Linked DNA regions of Homo sapiens. The gene in region 7 interacts genetically with the main gene of each other region. Each region holds a gene or a part of one and is shown on either strand. Other genes may lie near its edges.

Region 1 (2,826 bases), on a different chromosome or scaffold from region 7:
TGAATGATTCATTTTGTGGCTACCCATCCCACCTTCCTTGGTTGGTTTGTTTCATTAAATTACACTGATGGTTGGGCCTTGCTTTATTGTATATCTTACTCTATTTAGTGAAATTAGATTTCTTTATTCTCCTGATTATTTGCATAAATTTAGTCTTTACTCTGTCATTGGTGGTTTTCTTGAAGGCAAGGTGAACCCTACTCAGTGTGAAGCAATGACCATGGTTGCAGCCCAAGTCATGGGGAACCATGTTGCTGTCACTGTCGGAGGCAGCAATGGACATTTTGAGTTGAATGTTTTCAAGCCAATGATGGTAAGCTTTAAATCTGATTTTTAATGTTTTTTGACCAAAGGCTTATTATCTTGGTTTTGTATTTCATAAAGACTTCTAGTGATTCCACATTGGGTAGTTGGGTGACATAAGTAGCAGTTGGAAGTCAAGCATTTATTAAGTTACCAGAATAATCCTAGATAATAGAAATTAGTTGACTTTTAACCTAAGCAATTTGATGTTTTTTTTAATAGCCCGTTTAAGAAAAATAAAATGCCTCCCTACAAGCCTGTCTCCTTCTCATGCTGCTGCTTTCTTCTTCAAATTCAGTCTTCTTGGAAGGATAGCACATACTCACTTTCATTTATGCTGTAGTCACCACAGCCCAGCATGGCCCCCTCCACGCTTGAATTATTCTCCCATTCATTGGTGACTACCTCAGTCCAGCTGGCATTGCGCAGTTAGTTCTTCCCTTACTAATAGTTGATGTTGACTGTCCCTCCTTGAAACATTCTTCATCCCTGCTTTCTTGAACATTTTTTCACCAGTTCTTCTTCTGCCCCCTGTCAGACTTCGTTTCATTGTCTGGCTTTACCTTTCCACATACTTGAAAACATTGTGTCCACCCAAACCGTTCTTTTTCTTTCGTCTTTACGAAGATCGATAGATGCATCGCGCCATTTCTCATCAGTTTCCTCAGCTGCAGATAGTGGAGCTGTTGCCATAATTTAGAGTCCTTCATTTGGACAAAGTGTTATAGCTAAAGTAGAGTAGGGGCTTACTTTCTCTTGGAATCTCTTCTAAATTCTAATTTTAATTTTATAAGAATATGCAAATGACAAATATGGAGTATATTTAATATATTCACTAAATATTTATTGAGTACCATTTTCTATCAGGCACTGTACTGGATGCATAATAGAGATAGAGCAATGAAAAGACAGATTTCTTGCTCTCATGGAATGTATATCCTAGTGGTAAATAAAAACACAGGCCAGAGCAGAACTCAGACTGTTAAAATTTTGCTCTCAGGTCAGATTCCAAACAGTTAACACGAGATACCCAGCATTTATAGGTGCATAACAATAAATGCCTTGTTAATCTTTTTAAAATTTTATTTTTAATGTAAAATAAAGATAATCAATATTTGCCTTATTACAAGGTCATTAGTAGCAAATTAAAACTTAGATTATATGTCTTAGAGTCCATTGTTGGAAGTCTAGTTTTCAGACCGGAGTTTTAGACCAGAGGATATTAGGATTTGGATATATCTTAATAAATATTGGAAATGTTGCCAACAAAGCCAAAACAAACTAATTGATTTTATACTGTTTTTTAATATTATATGAAAAGTTATTTTACAGTGACTGGAGTATTCGTTAAAGCATAGAAAACCTAGAAATTTGGTGATCATTAGATTTTGCCCTGACTTTACTAATTGCCTCACACTCATACTGAACTTTCGAACCTCTGCATCTTTGCTCCTCTTCCTTCTGCGTGGAAGATTCTTTTTCCTTCTCTGGCCAAGTCCTCTCCATAAAATAGGATTTCACCAGTTCCGACAACTGGAGTTAATTTCTCTTTCTCTATGGTCTCTAACACTTCAGACCTCTGTTTTAAATACTTGCTATGGGCTATTTTGTGTTTTAGTCATTTGTATTTATGTCTTTTTCACCTTTTTTAGATTTCTGTGCCTTCAAATGTTCATGCTTTCTTTCACATTTGTTTCCTTGGTTATAGTGCCTTAAAATTTGTAGAAGATCTATATGTTTATTGAATTGTATATTTACTGTCAACCAGAAAATAATATGTTATTGGACAAAAAACATGTTGCCTTAGTAATGTCTCTCTCTCTCTCTCTCTCTCTCTCTCTCTCTCTCTCACTCACTCAAAGATTAAAAATGTGTTACACTCAGCCAGGCTGCTGGGGGATGCTTCAGTTTCCTTTACAGAAAACTGCGTGGTGGGAATCCAGGCCAATACAGAAAGGATCAACAAGCTGATGAATGAGTCTCTAATGTTGGTGACAGCTCTCAATCCTCATATAGGTAAGTGTTTAAGGAATAATAATATCATTTTGAATGCAAAATTAAAAAGCTAAACCATTTTTAAGAGACAAGTGGATCAGTGTTTGAGAACAGCAAATTTCTTTTGAATATGGTTTTAGTAAAATCTCAAAATATTTGAAATTGTGTGGAAAGGTACTATATAACTTGTATGGTGTCATAGTTCTTTCAAAACTAGATCTATTATGCCTCATTTTATTTGAAATGTATCGAGAAGTAGTAGTTCAAACTTATTTTGATTTTAATGGAATTCAGACGCCAAATATTCTATGCAGACCATTGGGGAAGGTTATTTGTAAGACCTTCAGTGGGTAATGTCACTAGGTGGCACTGCTGATTAGCAACATTGAATGAACTCATTTTTCTACCTTCCCTAGATCTCTACAATGCTTTAATTTTGTTGTTTTATTCAATTCAGAAATGGAAAGTTACAATTAAAAGAAAAAGTTTATGTATTCATTGCTTATAGTGAAAGGGAGGAAGGAAAAT
Region 2 (3,500 bases), on a different chromosome or scaffold from region 7:
CGGGTTCAAGCAATTCTCCTGCCTTAGCCTCCCGAGCAGCTGGGATTACAGGCGCACACCACCATGCCCGGCTAATTTTTTTGTATTTTTAGTAGAGCTGGGATTTCACCATATTGGTCAGGCTGGTCTCAAACTCTTGATCAGGGTGATCCACCCGCCTCAGCCTCCCAAAATGCTGGGATTACAGGCGTGAGCCACCGCGCCCAGCTTCCAATAATAATTTTATATTTTAACTGACTTTTGGAAGCAAACTTGCAAGAAGCAGTATAGGTAAAAGAAAATCATCGCTGCCATTATGCAAGTTGTTTCCCTTACACATATATGTTGTTTTGAAACATTTTGGTTCATGTCAGTCTTACTATATGTCAGTCTTACCATATCTCCCTGATCAAAGATAAAGGAAGATGTGATGATCTAGAATGGAAGCAATTTGTTTTAGACTACTGGGAAAATTTTGTTTTGTCCAATTATGCTTTTAATATTTTTATTTTATTTATTTATTTTTTTGAGACGGAGTTTCACTCTTGTTGCCCAGGCTGGAGTGCATTGGCACAATCTCAGCTTACCACAACCTCTGCCTCCCAGGTTCAAGCGGTTCTCCTGCTTCAGCCTCCCGAGTAGCTGGGATTACAGGCATGCATCACCATGCCCGGCTAATTTTGTATTTTTAGTAGAGACAGGGTTTCTCCATATTGGTCAGGCTGGTCTCGAACTCCCGAACTCAGGTAATCCGCCTGCCTCAGCCTCCGAAAGTGTTGGGATTACAGGCGTGAGCCACAGTGCCCGGCACTTTTAATGTTTTTATTTTAATTAATTAATTAATTTATTTATTTATTTATTTATTTTGAGACAGATTTTCGCTCTGTCGCCAGCCTGGAGTGCAGTGGCGCAATCTCTGCTCACTGCAACCTTGGCTTACTGCAACCTCCGCCTCCTGGGTTCAAGTGATTCTCCTCCCTCAGCCTCCCAAGTAGCTGGGAATACAAGCATGTACCACCACACCCAGCTAATTTTTGTATTTTTAGTAGATACAGGGTTTTACCATGTTGGCCAGGATGGTCTTGATCTCCTGACCTCGTGATCTGCTGCCTCGGCCTCCCGAAGTGCTGGGATTACAGGCGTGAGCCACAGCACCCGGCCTTTGTTGGTTTTTTGTTTTGTCACACATTGAGGCCTTAGCAGGTTAGGCTTTAGTAAAAAGTCATGAGAATTAATGACATTTGGGTTTCAACTTAAAATGATCTGCCCCATAGATTCCCAGATTTTATTTCCAAAGCCTTTCTTAAGAAGACAATTAATTAAACATGCAATAATATCTTTAGGAGTTTCTAAAAAGTCTATTGGAAATCATTTTATAATAAAGATATTAGGAGCCCTCATGTTTTTGAAACGTTCTAAAAGTTATTTTGGTAAATCATTTTCTCCACTTTATTTGTTTTGTAAATCCTAAGCCTTATGTGTTGGGAATTTGTTTAGTACTTTATTTTAAACTTTACAACTTTATTATAAACTGAGGATGCAAGGAACAACATATTTTTCTGGGCTCTGCCATTTAACTCTCTAGCTAACAAATTTAGGTTTTGGTGAAGCATGCTTGTTGCTTTTAACTTCCTGATGGATATAACCCACCTTTACTATGGAGTATGACTTCTTTTTTTTTTTTTTTTTTGAGACGGAATTTTGCTGTTGTTGCCCAGGCTGGAGTGCAGTGGCACAATCTCGGCTCACCGTAACCTCTGCCTCCTGGGTTCAAGCGATTCTCCTGCCTCAGCCTCCCAAGTAGCTGGGATTACAGGCGCCCACCACAACGCCTGGCTAATTTTGTATTTTTAGTAGAGACGGGGTTTCTCCATGTTGGTCAGGCTAGTCTCGAACTCCCAATGTCAGGCGATCCACCCATCTTGGCCTCCCAAAGTGCTGGGATTACAGGCGTGAGCCACCGCACCTGGCCAAGCATGACTGCCTTATCCTGTTTTCACTTTATCAAAGATTAAATTCAAAATTCTGAAAGTAATCATTGTGAGTATGGCTGTTTCTTTTCCAATGTGGGAAAAAAATAGTGACCCATCTTTTTTCAGATGAATAAGTAGTAGATAATTTTATTGTTATATGATTCAGATATGTTTTCATGTAGGATTTAGTTTAATCTATTTTTTTTTTTTTTGAGATGTAGTCTCACTCTGTCGCCCAGGCTGGAGTGCAGTGGCTTACTGTAAGCTCCACCTCCCAGGTTCATGCCATTCTCCTGCCTCAGCCTCCTGAGTAGCTGGGACTACAGGTGCCTGCCACCACGCCTGGCTAATTTTTTGTATTTTTTAGTAGAGATGCGGTTTCACCGTGTTAGCCAGGATGGTCTCGATCTGCTGACCTGGTGATCTGCCCGCCTCAGCCTCCCAAAGTGCTGAGATTACAGGTGTGAGCTACCGTGCCCAGCCAGTTTAATCTATTTTTTAAATGAACTTTATTTCTTTAGAGTAGTTTAAGATTTACAGAAAAATTGTGAAGATAGCGCAAAGAAGTCTCATATATCCCTGCATCCAGTTTCTCCTATTGTTAACATCTTACATTAATGTGGTACAGTTGTTACAGTTAATGAGCCAATATTGATACATAATTATAAACTGGAGTCCATACTTTATTTAGATTTACTTAGTCTACCTAATGTCCATTTTCTGTTCCAGGATCTTACTCATTATACCATCTTACATTTAGTCCTGTCTCCTTGGGGTGCCTCTTGATTGGGCTGGTTTCTCAGACTGTCCTCGTTTTTGATGGCACTTAATCTATTTTACAATTGATAAGTTACAGTTCTTCATAGTTTGTTTTATTGATCTGTTTTCCTCCATATACTACTGTAGTCCATTCATTTAAAACTGGCTTTTTATTTTTCCAGTAGGAAATCCATGAAGTCCAGAAGTAGAAGTCCTGCATATTCAAGACATTCATCTTCTCATAGTAAAAAGAAGAGATCCAGTTCACGCAGTCGTCATTCCAGTATCTCACCTGTCAGGCTTCCACTTAATTCCAGTCTGGGAGCTGAACTCAGTAGGAAAAAGAAGGAAAGAGCAGCTGCTGCTGCTGCAGCAAAGATGGATGGAAAGGAGTCCAAGGGTTCACCTGTATTTTTGCCTAGAAAAGAGAACAGTTCAGTAGAGGCTAAGGATTCAGGTTTGGAGTCTAAAAAGTTACCCAGAAGTGTAAAATTGGAAAAATCTGCCCCAGATACTGAACTGGTGAATGTAACACATCTAAACACAGAGGTAAAAAATTCTTCAGATACAGGGAAAGTAAAGTTGGATGAGAACTCCGAGAAGCATCTTGTTAAAGATTTGAAAGCACAGGGAACAAGAGACTCTAAACCCATAGCACTGAAAGAGGAGATTGTTACTCCAAAGGAGACAGAAACATCAGAAAAGGAGACCCCTCCACCTCTTCCCACAATTGCTTCTCCCCCACCCCCTCTACCAACTACTACCCCTCCACCTCAGACACCCCCTTTG
Region 3 (3,330 bases), on a different chromosome or scaffold from region 7:
AATGCATTTTTTTTTCCCGTAAAGGCAGAATCCATCTTGTTGCAGATAGCTATCTAAATAATCTCATATCCTCTTTTGCAAAGACTACAGAGAATAGGCTATGACAATCTTGTTCAAGCCTTTCCATTTTTTTCCCTGATAACTAAGTAATTTCTTTGAACATACCAAGAAGTATGTAAAAAGTCCATGGCCTTATTCATCCACAAAGTGGCATCCTAGGCCCAGCCTTATCCCTAGCAGTTGTCCCAGTGCTGCTAGGTTGCTTATCTTGTTTATCTGGAATCACTGTGGAGTGAAATTTTCCACATCATCCAGAATTGCCTTATTTAAGAAGTAAAACGTTTTAATTTTTAGCCTTTTTTTGGTGGAGTTATTTAATATGTATATCAGAGGATATACTAGATGGTAACATTTCTTTCTGTGCTTGGCTATCTTTGTGGACTTCAGGGGCTTCTAAAACAGACAGGACTGTGTTGCCTTTACTAAATGGTCTGAGACAGCTATGGTTTTGAATTTTTAGTTTTTTTTTTTTAACCCACTTCCCCTCCTGGTCTCTTCCCTCTCTGATAATTACCATTCATATGTGAGTGTTAGTGTGCCTCCTTTTAGCATTTTCTTCTTCTCTTTCTGATTCTTCATTTCTGACTGCCTAGGCAAGGAAACCAGATAACCAAACTTACTAGAACGTTCTTTAAAACACAAGTACAAACTCTGGGACAGGACCCAAGACACTTTCCTGTGAAGTGCTGAAAAAGACCTCATTGTATTGGCATTTGATATCAGTTTGATGTAGCTTAGAGTGCTTCCTGATTCTTGCTGAGTTTCAGGTAGTTGAGATAGAGAGAAGTGAGTCATATTCATATTTTCCCCCTTAGAATAATATTTTGAAAGGTTTCATTGCTTCCACTTGAATGCTGCTCTTACAAAAACTGGGGTTACAAGGGTTACTAAATTAGCATCAGTAGCCAGAGGCAATACCGTTGTCTGGAGGACACCAGCAAACAACACACAACAAAGCAAAACAAACCTTGGGAAACTAAGGCCATTTGTTTTGTTTTGGTGTCCCCTTTGAAGCCCTGCCTTCTGGCCTTACTCCTGTACAGATATTTTTGACCTATAGGTGCCTTTATGAGAATTGAGGGTCTGACATCCTGCCCCAAGGAGTAGCTAAAGTAATTGCTAGTGTTTTCAGGGATTTTAACATCAGACTGGAATGAATGAATGAAACTTTTTGTCCTTTTTTTTTCTGTTTTTTTTTTTCTAATGTAGTAAGGACTAAGGAAAACCTTTGGTGAAGACAATCATTTCTCTCTGTTGATGTGGATACTTTTCACACCGTTTATTTAAATGCTTTCTCAATAGGTCCAGAGCCAGTGTTCTTGTTCAACCTGAAAGTAATGGCTCTGGGTTGGGCCAGACAGTTGCACTCTCTAGTTTGCCCTCTGCCACAAATTTGATGTGTGACCTTTGGGCAAGTCATTTATCTTCTCTGGGCCTTAGTTGCCTCATCTGTAAAATGAGGGAGTTGGAGTAGATTAATTATTCCAGCTCTGAAATTCTAAGTGACCTTGGCTACCTTGCAGCAGTTTTGGATTTCTTCCTTATCTTTGTTCTGCTGTTTGAGGGGGCTTTTTACTTATTTCCATGTTATTCAAAGGAGACTAGGCTTGATATTTTATTACTGTTCTTTTATGGACAAAAGGTTACATAGTATGCCCTTAAGACTTAATTTTAACCAAAGGCCTAGCACCACCTTAGGGGCTGCAATAAACACTTAACGCGCGTGCGCACGCGCGCGCGCACACACACACACACACACACACACACACACAGGTCAGAGTTTAAGGCTTTCGAGTCATGACATTCTAGCTTTTGAATTGCGTGCACACACACACGCACGCACACACTCTGGTCAGAGTTTATTAAGGCTTTCGAGTCATGACATTATAGCTTTTGAGTTGGTGTGTGTGACACCACCCTCCTAAGTGGTGTGTGCTTGTAATTTTTTTTTTCAGTGAAAATGGATTGAAAACCTGTTGTTAATGCTTAGTGATATTATGCTCAAAACAAGGAAATTCCCTTGAACCGTGTCAATTAAACTGGTTTATATGACTCAAGAAAACAATACCAGTAGATGATTATTAACTTTATTCTTGGCTCTTTTTAGGTCCATTTTGATTAAGTGACTTTTGGCTGGATCATTCAGAGCTCTCTTCTAGCCTACCCTTGGATGAGTACAATTAATGAAATTCATATTTTCAAGGACCTGGGAGCCTTCCTTGGGGCTGGGTTGAGGGTGGGGGGTTGGGGAGTCCTGGTAGAGGCCAGCTTTGTGGTAGCTGGAGAGGAAGGGATGAAACCAGCTGCTGTTGCAAAGGCTGCTTGTCATTGATAGAAGGACTCACGGGCTTGGATTGATTAAGACTAAACATGGAGTTGGCAAACTTTCTTCAAGTATTGAGTTCTGTTCAATGCATTGGACATGTGATTTAAGGGAAAAGTGTGAATGCTTATAGATGATGAAAACCTGGTGGGCTGCAGAGCCCAGTTTAGAAGAAGTGAGTTGGGGGTTGGGGACAGATTTGGTGGTGGTATTTCCCAACTGTTTCCTCCCCTAAATTCAGAGGAATGCAGCTATGCCAGAAGCCAGAGAAGAGCCACTCGTAGCTTCTGCTTTGGGGACAACTGGTCAGTTGAAAGTCCCAGGAGTTCCTTTGTGGCTTTCTGTATACTTTTGCCTGGTTAAAGTCTGTGGCTAAAAAATAGTCGAACCTTTCTTGAGAACTCTGTAACAAAGTATGTTTTTGATTAAAAGAGAAAGCCAACTAAATCATTATGTGCTCATTCTTTTTCTTAAGCTTGTGGATGTCTTGGATCTGGAAAGGGTTTCTGATCACTTAGAGAATTTTCAAACTTTAGGTCAACATTTTCCTTTATTGCCTTGTGGCCACTGAAATGGGAAATGTGACATTTAAAATATGACCCTGGAATAACAGTCCCCATTCTTCTCTCATTTTTAAAAGGAGAAGGTGAAGTGATGGTGATCAGAGAGATGGGTGCTAGGGAATTATAAGAACCAGGATGCTTAAAGGAGAGGTAAAATTGGAAATTGGAGACCCTTTCATTGCCCAGCTAAGGGATAAGGAAAGCTGTTTCTCTCCCATCTGCCTTCTCTGTGAAATAGGGGTCAATGGGAGGGGAGTGGTGGTCAGGTAAGTAGATTCCGTGGCAATGGCTTGTATATAACAAGACCACATCAGCATTTTATTTCTAAGCTTGCTGACATGAGTTTCAGAGAGTTTATCGGGCTGAGAGATTTCTTCTCACCTG
Region 4 (2,578 bases), on a different chromosome or scaffold from region 7:
CTCCTGCAGCATGAAACCCCTCACCTCCCGCTCCTGCAGCAGAAACAAAATACTTGGTTCTGTTTATTGTCTCCCTTTCTCATTAGACCTGAGCTCTGGGATACTGTGGGCTTAAGTACTTCTGAAAATTTGTATGGCATCTGCTGGGTGAATTTTCCTAGGGTGCTGGGCTGGTTGTTAGGACAGTCTGGGTGACTGGCCTCATTCATGGCAGGGGCAGCAGGTGGAGAGTGGTCCGGGAAGGATTTGAGGAGCTGCACGGAGTCAGGCCCAGCCTCTGGCCTCCTGATTGCCACCTTTCTCAGGATCTTGGATACTAATTAAGAAACTCTTGACTGCTGGAGGCTGTGATTGACCCACTGAGAGCTTTTAGGCATGTGGATGTGAGTCAGCCAGGATTGATGGAGCATTGACTGCTAATTAGACTCCTCTGGGAAGGTAGAGGCGGGCAACACATAATGCCTTCGCTGTGGGAGCTTCATCAAGGGGATGATTCTTGGACGGACATTTTTCCTCCCTCTTTCCACAGGGGCATGCTAGCCCTGTCATTCTAGGAGTTTATTATCCTTCAGACACAGCTACTTATGTTTTTAATTCCCTCACAGGATGAAGACATGAAGAGAAAGTTTCAAGATCTTCTGTCTGAGGAAAATGAATCCACAGCTCTACCCCAGGTTCTAGCCCAGGTATTCGTATTCCTGATGATCACTAAATGTAGTCTGGGCTTAAGGAGCTGATAAGCAAAGATGATGAAATTCAAGATTTTCCTGAGTAGCAATTGCTTAACATTGTTTCAGTTATAATGTAGTAGAAACTCTGTTTTAACTTGATTCGCTCCAGCACCCTTAGATTTAAAAATGCAGGATATGTTTAATATCTAACACATAATAGACCGATAAGCACAGCTAGGGATTGTCATCCAAAAGGTCACCTGCAAGGCAATTTCGAAAGACTCTATTAGAGGCTCAAATATAAATTTGTTGAACAAATTAAAATTTGGGTCAGTAGTTGATTCCTTGATTACAATTTTATTCTTTAAAGTTCTTTGTGAGTATAAGTTAATTCCAGTCCTGCTTTTTTGTTGTTGTTGTTGTTGTTGAATGGTAGCTGTCCTTTTTCCCACTGTTTCCTCCCCCCAATTTTTTTTTTCTTGAGACAGAGTCTTGGTTTGTCACTCAGGCCGGAGTGCAGTGGTGCAATCTCAGCTCACTGCAACCTCTGCCTCCTGGGTTCAAGCAGTTCTCCTGCCTCAGTCTCCCGAGTATCTGGGATTACAGGTGTCCGCCACTGTGCCCAGCTAATTTTTGAATTTTTAGGTGAGATGGGGTTTTGCCATGTTGGTCAGGCTTGTCTCGAACTTTTGACCTGAAGCGACCTGCCCACCTCGGCTTTCCAAAGTGCTGGGATTACAGCTGTGAGTCACCGCACCCAGCCTTCCTCCCAATTTTATATATGGGAAAACAACTAAGGCACAAAGGTTGTCTTCCCGCAAAAGACCAAGACTTGGGGCTTCAACTGAGAGGTATTATAGTCCTTTTAAACTTGATATTTAGAAGAGGACGATCAAGAGGAAGTTGGTTATGCTACTTGCTTTCAGTATACATCGTTCAGAGGTCAGAAGCCATAAGGGAGAGAAATATCTATTAGATAAGCATGTCTGAGTTGGGGGCTGTGGTGAGGACTCAGTTGTCAATGATGACAACCAGTAATTTTTGGTTCTAGAATTTCACATCAAATGCCCCCACTTTACTGGAAGCATATTGAGGAACTTTGATAATCTTAAAGAAGCCAGTGATTTTCTTTTGAACATTTCTCCATTTTCCTTTATTTTCAGCCTTCTACTAGTCGAAAGCGGCCCCGTGAAGGGGAAGCCGAGGGTGCCGAGACCACAAAGCGCCCAGCTGTGTGTGCTGCTGTGTTGTGAACTCCGTGGTTTGAACACGAAAGAAATGTACCTTCTTTCACTCTGTCATCTTTCTTTTCTTTGAGTCTGTTTTTTTATAGTTTGTATTTTAATTATGGGAATAATTGCTTTTTCACAGTCACTGATGTACAATTAAAAACCTGATGGAACCTGGGCTTTGTGCTTCTGCTTGATAATCGGTTCTTTAGTTGAATGGCTTTATTATTTATTTATTTGAGATGGAGTCTCACTCTGTTGCCCAGCCTGAATGAAGTGCAGTGGTGCAGGCTTGGCTCACTGCAACCTCTGCTTCCCAGGTTCAAGCGATTCTTGTGCCTCAGCCTCCTGAGTAGCTGGGATTACAGGTATGCACCACCATGCCTGTTAATTTTTATATATTTTGTAGAGACAGGGTTTTGCCATGTTGGCCAGCCTGGTCTTGAACTTCTGACCTCAGGTGATCTGTCTGCCTCAGTCTCTTAAAGTGCTGGGATTACACGCATGAGCCACTGAGCCTAGCCTGAATGGCTTTTTTATATTTAAAGTTGTGTGCCTTTCATCTGGAGCTACACCTTGGCTATCACTAGGCAGGTTTCCCAGGATGTCACCCTGGTCTCAGCCTGTGAGAGCTGAATACAAATTCTAAGGGCCCCTTGGAAAGTTCCAGGGAAGGGA
Region 5 (3,500 bases), on a different chromosome or scaffold from region 7:
GAAGAAGAAGAACAAGGGTGGTGTTGCAGTAAAAGCACATCAGGTATGTGCTTTTGGCAGTTTTCTTTTTCTAAAGTCAAGGAAGAAGAGAAAGGCTATAAATAAAGCATGAGTACATTTTTAGTGGCTTAATATCAACTTCTATTGCAGGTGAAAAATCACATGTGGATTTTTGTAAATGCCTTAATTGAAAACCCAACCTTTGACTCTCAGACAAAAGAAAACATGACTTTACAACCCAAGAGCTTTGGATCAACATGCCAATTGAGTGAAAAATTTATCAAAGCTGTGAGTACTTAGAGGAAAATAAAAATAGAAACACCTGACTTTATTTTCCATTGCACTTCTTAGCTCTGCAGAAACAATGATTCTTCTCATAGTGAGCTTCTCCAAGTCTTCCCAATCTGAAAAGGAAGTAAAAAAGGGCTTTACTTTAACTGATTTACCAAAGACTTAATGACCGTCTATATTTCAGTATTTCCCAATTACATTTTACCATTAAGCTTAGATCACTTTTGAATTAATCTAGCTGTTTAACAAACACCCTCACTTAAATGCCTAAGACTTGCTTTCAGTCAACACATCCAAAATTGAATTTGTTACCTCCATACTCACTGATTTGCCCATACAAGCAGCCCCCCACTCTCCAACAAAAAAACAACTTCCTATCTTAGTAAAAAGCCCCAACCAACCTCTAGGTTGTATAAACAAGAAAGCTGGGAGCCTTCCTTTATTTCCCCTCCTCTCTAATCCGGTCAATAAGAATCATCTCTTGGATGCTGCAGTAGCTTCTCACCATTATCTCTTTTTTGGTTTACTACAATAGGTTCTTAACCTTCATACTGGTTAAGTCCTTTCCTTGGAATGCTTTTGAGTGACTTTTGTGTTAAAACACCCATTTTTATCTTCACTCTCATTTGAAATCTTTCAATGACTTCCACTCAGGGAAAGTCCAAATTCCATAATTTGGCCAACAAGAAAGATCTGCTGTAATCTAATTACACCTACTTCTCCAACTCATCTCAGTGCCAGTTTTTCGTATATTGTCCTGTTGCTTTTAAATTACTGAAAAGCACAGTGCTCTTCCCCTCCTCAGAGTTTATTCACATGCTAATCCCTCTGCATGAAATACATCCTTTTCACCTGGCTACTTTAGGTCTTGTCCTTTCCTCAGGAAAGCCTTTACTTTCTACCCTTCCCCCCACCTAAGTTGGTTCCAATATAATATTGAACATACCTTATTAGCAAACTTTTTGCTTATCCATAACACTTATAACACTGTAACTTATTTTATTTCTGTCTTTTTTTTTAGGCAGAGTCTCGCTCTGTCGCCCAGGCTGGAATGCAGTGGCACGATCTCGGCTCACTGCAACCTCCGCCTCCTAGGTTTCAGTGATTCTCTTGCCTCAGCCTCCCGAGTAGCTGAGATTACAGGCATGCATCACCATGCCTGGCTAATTTTTTTGTTGTTGTATTTTCAGTAGAGACAGGGTTTCACCATGTTGGTCAGGCTGGTCTCAAACTCCTGACCTCAAATGATCCACCCATCTCGGCCTTCCAAAGTGTTGGGATTACAGCCATGAGCCACTGTGCCCAGTCTTTTTTTTTTTTTTTTTTGAGACAGAGTCTTGCTGTGTTGCCCAGGCTACAGTGCAGTGACGTAATCCTGGCTCATTGCAATCTCTGCCTCCCAGGTTCAAGCGATTCTCCTTGCCTCCTGAGTAGCTGGGATTCTCCAGCCTCCTGAGTAGCGGGGATTACAGACATGCACCATCACATCCAGCTAATTTTTGTATTTTTAATAGAGATGGGGTTTTACCATGTTGGCCAGGCTGGTCTTGAACTCCTGGCCTCACTTGATCCACCATCCTCGGCCTCCTAAAGTGCTGTGATTACAGGCGTAAGCCACTGCACCCAGCTATGTCTGTCTTCTATGTTGTGTCTTAAACTTGATGAGGACAAGTGTCTCAATTTGTTTTATTTGTGTCTAATTTTATTTATTTATTTTTAATTTTTTTTTTTGGAGACAGCTTCTCACTGTTTCCCAGGCTGGAGTGCCGTGGCTTGATCTCAGTTCACTGCAACCCGCGCCTCCCAGGTTAAAGCAATTCTCCTGCCTCAGCCTCCCAAGCAGCTAGGATTACAGCCATTTCACCACCACCATGCCTGGCTACCCTTTTTTTTTTTTTTTTTTTTTTTTTTGAGACGGAGTTTCACTTTTGTCACCCAGGCTGGAGTGCAATGGTGCGATCTTGGCTCGCTGCAACCTCTACCTCCTGGGTTCAAGCGATTCTCCTGCCTCAGCCTCCCGAGTAGCTGGAATTACAGGTGCCCACCACCACGCCAGCTAATTTTTGTATTTTTAGTAGAGCCGGGGTTTCGCCATGTTGGCCAGGCCGGTCTCAAACTCCTGACCTCAGGTGTTCTGCCCACCTTGGCCTCCTAAAGTGCTGGGATTATAGGCGTGAGCCACCGTGCCTGGTCTAATTTGTTTTAACCACTATATCTCCAACAAGTAGCTCAGTGCTAGCACAATATAATTATATAGTAAATATTTATTGAACGAATGAACCAAAAGGAGCAGCTCCCTCAGTGGTGATAACCTGACATGGGAAGATGTGCCACCCTCTATCCAGAAATTATTGTTCTACATCTTTTTAATTTTTGAATCATTTTTATTTGTATTAAGGCTCATTTGTATTCTAGATTTCTGATAGATCCCTTCTTCCCTAATATGATCCCTAATATGAATCTTCTCGTTTTCAGGCCATTGGCTGTGGTATTGTAGAAAGCATACTAAACTGGGTGAAGTTTAAGGCCCAAGTCCAGTTAAACAAGAAGTGTTCAGCTGTAAAACATAATAGAATCAAGGGAATTCCCAAACTCGATGATGCCAATGATGCAGGTATATATTTAATAATGTTTCCAAACTTTTAAGTCTTATAGTTGTTATTTTATTCATTAATGGCATACCACGGATATTTATTTTTCCCTTGACAGAATAACTATATTCAACAGAATAACTTGTTAAAAATCGGCCCGTTTCCTATTATGGAAGATTTAGGTCATTTCCATGTTATAAATAATATTGAGGTGATTATTTTGGAGTATAAAACAAGAATGTTTATATTATGATCTATTACCTAACAAATAATTTTGCTCATTATATAGTAAATTGTGTTTTATCACAAGGCTATAAACAGCATGTTCAAGTTAGTATATTTGAGGTTGAACTAAATGTGCTAATATTAATATGTATATTTTTATTTTAGGGGGCCGAAACTCCACTGAGTGTACGCTTATCCTGACTGAGGGAGATTCAGCCAAAACTTTGGCTGTTTCAGGCCTTGGTGTGGTTGGGAGAGACAAATATGGGGTTTTCCCTCTTAGAGGAAAAATACTCAATGTTCGAGAAGCTTCTCATAAGCAGGTAGAATATAAGACGATCTTCAGAATCTAAATCTAATTTATAATACAAGACTTTATGCTTATATTTAATT
Region 6 (3,500 bases), about 120 Mb from region 7:
ATGGTACAGGTGTCCTCCTTATTCTTCATTGTCACTTTCTCCCATCTTCCTTTATGTCTCTCCCCTCTAACTTTTGAACCCCAAATTAAAATTTCTGCCGTACTATCACAGTCTGCAAAATGACTCTTGATGTTATTTTCGTCATGATTCTTGGTGATTTAAATATTTATTTGGATCATCCTCCTGATATCCTGACTTCACTGTTTCTTGACCCTCTCTCCTATAGTGATGTTGTCTTTGAACACGCTGCACTGATCACCAGTATAATTTTTTCTGACTTCCTCCCTTAATATTCTAACTTAAACAGTCCTTTGTATCTGGACTTGCAATTAATTAATTCTATCTCTTCAGTCTCTTACCTGCTCCCTCTCTAGGTCCTTGATTTCATCTTTACCTATCTTAAATCTTTAGGTTAGTCATTATAAATGACTGCTTTGCGTTCATCATCTTCAATTTCCTTGTCCCCTTCTCTCTTCATCATACTTAGTGGGTAAAACCCAGTAAGTAGTTTCTGGGTTTAATCTAGTAGTTTTCTACGTACTGCACACTTGTACCTGCACAACAGATTGCAGCAGGAGAAAAATACCCAAAAATGTTCACTTTAAATTCAGGATTACTAATCTCAAGTGGGCCCTTAATGCTTCCTGGCATTTGGCCTTCGTTTCCCCACATCTTTCTCTGTCCTGTTCTCCTAAATCACGTTTTTATAATACTTTTCTCTTTTTTTTTTTTTTTTTTTTGAGACAGGGTCTAGGCTGGAGTGCAGTGGCGCCATCTCCACTCACTTCAACCTCTGCCTCTCAGGTTCAAGCGATTCGATTCTCGTGCCTTAGCCACCCGAGTAGCTGGGATTACAGGTGTGAACCACCACACCTGGCTAATTTTTATATTTTTAGTAGAGGTTTTGCCATGCTGGCCAGGCTGGTCTCAAACTCCTAGCCTCAAGTGATCCCCCTGCCTCAGCCTCCCAAAGTGCTGGGTTTATAGGTGTGAGCTACTGTGTCTGGTCCCTTAACTTTTATTATCTTCTCTCCATCCTCACTCTCAGTTGTTCACTTTGCTTCCTGTGTCACTGGGAAATGAAAGCCACAAGAGAACTTAGGCAAGCTCCCACCACCATCTCCTCCATACTAACTGCCTCTATGCTCATGTATTCTCTTTCATCCTGTATTGCTGTAGATAAATTGCTCTGGATGTAAGCCAGGTCTTTCTCTTACCCACTCAATGACTTTGTCTAGCAATTTTTCTCCCTCTCCTACATTATTAATTTTTCCTTCTCTACCGGATCTTTCTCATCAGCATATCTACATGCTTTTTCTCCCATTTTAAAATCAAATCATAATGGTAATAAAATTTCTCTTAACTCCACTTTTCCCTACCATTCCATCTTCTTCACAATTGAATATTCCTAAAATTGCTTCTCATCTCTAACACCTCAAAACTAGTTTTCAATTTCATCTATTTTGTTGCCAAGAGTCACAGTGATTTTTGGAACGTGTTGCCAAGTTCAATGTAATAGTCCACTGTGGTCAACCGAGGTCTGAAAAGATTAAATGGAAAGTACCAGAAGTAAACAATTCATCAATTCATGGGTTTTGGCCGGGCGCGGTGGCTCACGCCTGTAATCCCAGCACTTTGGGAGGCCAAGGCGGGCGGATCACGAGGTCAGGAGATCGAGACCATCCTGGCTAACACGGTGTCACCCCGTCTCTACTAAAAATACAAAAAATTAGCCGGGCGAGGTGGCGGTCGCCTGTAGTCCCAGCTACTCGGGAGGCTGAGGCAAGAGAATGGCGTGAACCCCGGGGGGCGGAGCTTGCAGTGAGCCGAGATCGCACCACTGCACTCCAGCCTGGGCAACAGCGAGACTCCGTCTCAAAAAAAAAAAAAAAGAAATTCATGGGTTTTATTTATTTATTTAATTCGAGACGGGATCTCGCTCTGTCGCCCAGACTGGAGTGCAGTGGCGTGGTCTCCACTTACTGAAACCTCTACCTCCTGAGCTTAAATGATCCTCCCATCTCAGCTTCCCGAGTAGCTGGGACTACAGGTGTGAGCCACTATGCCCGGCTAATTTTTGTATTTTTGGTAGAGATGAGGTTTCGCCATGTTGCCTATGCTTTTCTACCAAAAATACAAAAATTAGCCAGGTGTGGTGGTTCACGCCTGTAATCCCAGCTGTTCTCAAACTGCTGGGCTTAAGCAATCCACCCACCCCGGCCTCCCAAAGTACTGGGATTATAGGCATGAGCCACAATGCCCTGCCATAGGTTTTAAATTGTGTGCTGTTCTGAGTAGCATAATAAAATCTTGTGCTGTCCTACTTCATCTCACTTGGGATGTGAATCACTCCTTTTTCCAGTGTATTCACGTTCCATGTGCTACCTGCTTGTAACTCCCTTAGTAGCTGTTTTGGTTATTAGATCGAAAGAACATATATAGGGTTTGGTACCATTTGTACTTTCAGGCATCCACTTGAACATATCCCTCTGTGGATAAGGGGGGTACTACTGTAGTCAGTTCTCAGACCTCTTGTTTTATCTCATCAATATTTTATACAGTTGATCATGCCCTCCTCCTTTAAACACTTTCTTCATTTGGCTTCCAGGCGTTACACTCTTCTGATTTTCGTCCTTCTCACTGGTCGCTCTTTTCAGTCTCTTGATGGTTTTTTTTCATCTGCTCAGCCTCCTACTATTGGAGTTCTCCAGGGCTGAATCTATGGATCTCCTTTGTTTTCTTCTCCACACTCACTCCATTAGTGATATTACTTGGTTTCATGGCTCTAAATAAAACTATATGTTGATAGTCACATTTATATCAACCTAGACCTTTCCTCTGAATTCCAAACTTACATGTCTTAACTGCCTTCTGAAATTTCACTTGAATGTTAAGAGGCATCTCACACTTGATGAATTCCAAACTGAGTTACTGATCTTTTCCTTTCAAACCCATTCCTTTTCAAAGTCTTTCCCATGTTGGTTAATGGCAACTGCATTATTCTTATTATGCAGATCAGAAACTTTGGAATCATCCTTCATTTTTCTCATTCTCTTTTACTTCACATCCAGTACACCAGCTAATTCTGTTAACCTCTATCTTTAAAAAAATCTTAGAATCTGATTACCTTTTTTTTTTTTACCTCTACTGTTACCCTATCATTCCAAATTACCATGATATCTTTCCAAAATGTTCTGATTTAAAAGTGAATTAGAATATATCACTATTCTACCCAAATCCTCCAATGCTTTAGTTCTCACGTGTAGTGTAAGCTAAAATCAGTTCATGACCTGTGAGTTCTTACACAATTTTGTTCCTTACATTACCTCTCCAACCTCAGTTCTGCTTTGCTCCCCCTTGGTCATATTGTTGTTCTTCTTATTGTTCTCCAAGTGCTCTAGGCACACTTCTACCTCACTGTTTTTGTAGTGACTGTTCCTATGTCTGAAAATGCTTTTTCCCATGGGACTTATTTGCATGTCTTATTCTCTTACTTTCTT
Region 7 (3,408 bases):
AGCCTCCTGAGTAGCTGAGCCACAGATGCATGCCACAACACCCAGCTAATTTTTATATTTTTTGTAGAGATGGGGTTTTTGCCATGTTGCCCAGGCTGGTCTTGAACTCCTGGGCTCAAACCATCCACCTGTCTTGGCCTCCCAAAGTGCTGGGATTATAGGAGTGAGCCACCTCACCCGGCTCCAGTAGTTCGATATGTTGTTATACGGTGAAAGCTTGGGGACTTCTGCCATGAATTAGTATTTGGCCTATTAAATTTGTGTTGTTTCTAAACTTTCAAATTACGAACTTTAAAAATGTTGAGACTAACATATATTTGCAAGTGGTGATAGTCCCCAAGCCATAAATGGTAGTAAAAGCTAAGCGAGCCTATACCAATCTTTTCTTCCCAGACTCTCACCAAAAGTTAACGTTGTCCTTGAAACATTCTGTTCTTATTTTATGAAAGGATGAAATTAATGTCAATTTGGTTAGGAGATGATTCTCATATATATGTTTTTAATTTCTGGCTAAATCTTTATATACTGAATGAAGATTCTCATATTGGACTTAATGACTTGATATTTTCAAAAAGCTGGTTGCAATGGTAAAGGTTATTAAAAAGAGAATATTGGAGAATATTAAGTTACCACAGATCACATTTCTAATTCTTTTGATTTATTGCAGCCATTTTGCTTTTAACCTAATAAAACTGACTTGAAAAGGTTATGTTAACAATTAATATTAACATTTAATATTTAAATTATAAGAATTGTATATTAAGAGGTTTACTTGCCACTAGTTTGATATCCATCATAGTTCATACAAATAGGAAATAAAGTGTTCCTTTCATCTCTCTTATGTAAGGATAGATTCGCAATATAAATTGGAGTTTTTGAAATTATTATTTATTTTTAATTTTTTTTTTATTGGGGATAGGTTTGTCTGGAAATTGTTTATTATTATTTATTTAAAAAGATGGGGTCTTGCTCTGTCACCCAGGCTGGAGTGCAGTGGCACTATCATAGCTCACTGCAGCCTCAAACTCCTGGGCCCAAGCGATCCTCCAGCCTCAGCTTCCCGAGTAGCTGAGACTACAGGTGTGAGTCACCACATCCAGCTCAAATTATTTTATAAGAACCAAAGTCATTACTAGCATCTTTACTACTTGTTTTCAAGTATGTGTGATACTGTAATTCAAAAAGCATAAAATAAAATAATTTCATAAATTTAAGTTGTTTTAATAGAAGCTTCAGTTTCCTGTTTTATTTTTCAATTACATCTTAGAATAATGATGGCATGCAAATATCTCCCAATCGACAATATAGTTTGTGTTAGTTTCTTAGAATCTCTTCCTAGGAATAATACCTTGTTTTCTATTTTTATGTCAGAGAACTCAAGAAAGCACAGATGGCAAAAGCTGCAGCTGAGGAAAGAGCACTCTTCACTGACCGGATGGCCACTAGGTCCACCACCCAGAGTAATAGAACATCTCGACTTATTGGAAAGAAAATGAACCGCTCTGTCAGCCTTACTATATACTGAGCTACTCCTTTCCCACCTCCCCCTGAACACTGTGACAAGAGGAAGCTAGGTTGAAATCACTGATAGAATCCAGTTTGCAATTACTTTCTCGATTGGTGTCAGTAGTTTTACTGATTAGGACTTTTATTGTGAATTACAGTTGAAAGCTGTATTTTGATGATTGCTATGTCAGGCTTTCATCTAATCTTACCAGTCTGTCTTCTGTAGGATGTGTCACTGTTGGATGTTACACCAGCCTTTCCAGGGTTAACCACTGTGGTGGTGTGCTGCTTATAGTTTGCTGTTGCATTGTAATAAAAGGTGTCTTTCCCTGTAGTGACCTGTAAAAAGTACTCAAGGGCTTTATTACAGACATACCCTCCCTTTGAAAAGGGACATGCTAAAAGACTCATTACTACTCAGCCTTCAATGTACCTGTGTGTCCATCTTATATTTCTTTTTTTTTTAATTGTGAATTAGACTTGTATATCCCACTGGGAGCACTTTGTAGGCATTGCATGAACCATGGGATGATGATTCTGTGGAGGTATTGCCTTGTGAATTTGCTGCTATTTTAGTTTTGTCTTTGCTGTAAACTTGTAGCATTAAACAATCATTGTTGTTAATAGGTCTTCTTTTTGAAACAATTATGTGAAATGTATAGCTGCTTTTGATGAAAAGCAGCTATTTGCCTTTTTTTTTTTTTCCTTTGAACTTTGAAGCTAGTGCATTGGAAAAATGCACCCTTTCCCTCCTTTGGAATGCTGTATTAATGTAGTATAATAATTACTGGTTTTGTAACTTGTTCTGGTAATGTCCTTCCCGGACTCTTTTTAAATGTCTCCCCCTAAGTTTTATACTTGATTGTATTATTAGTCTGTTTTTAAATGTTTTGCCCGGTTTTTCTCTTCAATATTTGTGTATATAAACCGATCTTCGTGATACTGTACATAGCTGTTTGAAATGCCAGAATGACTTCTGACATTCCAAGTTTTTCACAAAATATATTTTATCTGTGATTAGCCATTTGACTAATAATACTGGCTAACAGATGTTGAAAAAAATTGTCTGTTTGTTTTCTCATTAATTTTGGTCTAAAACATGTTTGCACTTGTCTTTGACTTGTGTTTTATTAACATTGATTGGCATATTAAAAGTCACTCTGAGCTTACCTTAATTGTCTAAATCCTTGTGATGCCTGTTTTCTAATATTTTATCTCTATTATTGCTATACTATAAAATGTATAGTGTGTATAATGTACTATTATAAAAGCAGAGGGCACATTTTGATTGAATATGAATATCACATTGCATGTTATGCATGTGACTTGCTAGAAATGTAGCATGATGTAATTTAAAATATCTTCAAATTATTAAGTGAATATAATATGATTCATAACTTTCTGATTTGTACTGAGTCACAGAAAACTTTAAAGTGGGGAGGTTTTGTTTTTGTTTTTAAGATGGAGTCTTGCTCTGTTACCCAGGCTGGAGTACAGTGGCGCGATCTCGGCTCAATGCAACCTCCGCCCCCTGGGATCAAGCGATTCTCCTGCCTCAGCCTCCTGTGTAGCTGGGACTGCAGGCATGCACCACCACACCCAGCTAATTTTTTGTATTTTTAGTAGAGACGGGGTTTCACTAAGTTGGCCAGGCTGGTCTCGAACTCCTGACCTCAGGTGATCTGCCTGCCTTGGCCTCCCAAAGTGCTGGGATTACAGGCGCCTGGCCCTTAAAGTGGGGAGGATTTTAATTCTCACTAAACTAGGCTGGGTTTTAAGATTTGAGGCCAGGCGTCTTGGCTCACGCCTGTAATCCCCACCACTTTGGGAGGCCAAGGCAGGAGGATTGCTTGGGGCCAGGAGTTTGAGACCAACCTGGGCAACACAGTGAGACCCTATCTC

What was found.
Region 1: changes in WEE1 (region 7) and FH are lethal when combined (synthetic lethality), as found in Homo sapiens cells (one large-scale study listed by BioGRID).
Region 2: changes in WEE1 (region 7) and CDK12 are lethal when combined (synthetic lethality), as found in Homo sapiens cells (one large-scale study listed by BioGRID).
Region 3: changes in WEE1 (region 7) and SMAD4 together harm fitness more than expected from each alone (negative genetic interaction), as found in Homo sapiens cells (one large-scale study listed by BioGRID).
Region 4: changes in WEE1 (region 7) and CHEK2 are lethal when combined (synthetic lethality), as found in Homo sapiens cells (one large-scale study listed by BioGRID).
Region 5: changes in WEE1 (region 7) and TOP2A are lethal when combined (synthetic lethality), as found in Homo sapiens cells (one large-scale study listed by BioGRID).
Region 6: changes in WEE1 (region 7) and CHEK1 are lethal when combined (synthetic lethality), as found in Homo sapiens cells (one large-scale study listed by BioGRID).

Annotation. Positions count from the first base shown.
Region 1 is NC_000001.11:241,499,930-241,502,755, reverse strand, and holds part of FH (fumarate hydratase, mitochondrial), read left to right. Parts: intron 1-185; coding exon 186-313; intron 314-2,165; coding exon 2,166-2,319; intron 2,320-2,826. UniProt on the Homo sapiens protein: Catalyzes the reversible stereospecific interconversion of fumarate to L-malate. Experiments in other species have demonstrated that specific isoforms of this protein act in defined pathways and favor one direction over the other.
Region 2 is NC_000017.11:39,467,986-39,471,485, forward strand, and holds part of CDK12 (cyclin-dependent kinase 12), read left to right. Parts: intron 1-2,893; coding exon 2,894-3,500. UniProt on the Homo sapiens protein: Cyclin-dependent kinase that phosphorylates the C-terminal domain (CTD) of the large subunit of RNA polymerase II (POLR2A), thereby acting as a key regulator of transcription elongation.
Region 3 is NC_000018.10:51,082,213-51,085,542, forward strand, and holds the end of SMAD4 (mothers against decapentaplegic homolog 4), read left to right. Parts: 3' UTR 1-2,830; downstream 2,831-3,330. UniProt on the Homo sapiens protein: In muscle physiology, plays a central role in the balance between atrophy and hypertrophy. When recruited by MSTN, promotes atrophy response via phosphorylated SMAD2/4.
Region 4 is NC_000022.11:28,687,243-28,689,820, reverse strand, and holds the end of CHEK2 (serine/threonine-protein kinase Chk2), read left to right. Parts: intron 1-605; coding exon 606-686; intron 687-1,834; coding exon 1,835-1,924; 3' UTR 1,925-2,078; downstream 2,079-2,578. UniProt on the Homo sapiens protein: Serine/threonine-protein kinase which is required for checkpoint-mediated cell cycle arrest, activation of DNA repair and apoptosis in response to the presence of DNA double-strand breaks.
Region 5 is NC_000017.11:40,407,897-40,411,396, reverse strand, and holds part of TOP2A (DNA topoisomerase 2-alpha), read left to right. Parts: coding exon 1-43; intron 44-150; coding exon 151-288; intron 289-2,766; coding exon 2,767-2,905; intron 2,906-3,272; coding exon 3,273-3,430; intron 3,431-3,500. UniProt on the Homo sapiens protein: Key decatenating enzyme that alters DNA topology by binding to two double-stranded DNA molecules, generating a double-stranded break in one of the strands, passing the intact strand through the broken strand, and religating the broken strand.
Region 6 is NC_000011.10:125,638,663-125,642,162, forward strand, and holds part of CHEK1 (serine/threonine-protein kinase Chk1), read left to right. Parts: intron 1-3,500. UniProt on the Homo sapiens protein: Serine/threonine-protein kinase which is required for checkpoint-mediated cell cycle arrest and activation of DNA repair in response to the presence of DNA damage or unreplicated DNA.
Region 7 is NC_000011.10:9,587,078-9,590,485, forward strand, and holds the end of WEE1 (wee1-like protein kinase), read left to right. Parts: intron 1-1,371; coding exon 1,372-1,525; 3' UTR 1,526-2,908; downstream 2,909-3,408. UniProt on the Homo sapiens protein: Acts as a negative regulator of entry into mitosis (G2 to M transition) by protecting the nucleus from cytoplasmically activated cyclin B1-complexed CDK1 before the onset of mitosis by mediating phosphorylation of CDK1 on 'Tyr-15'.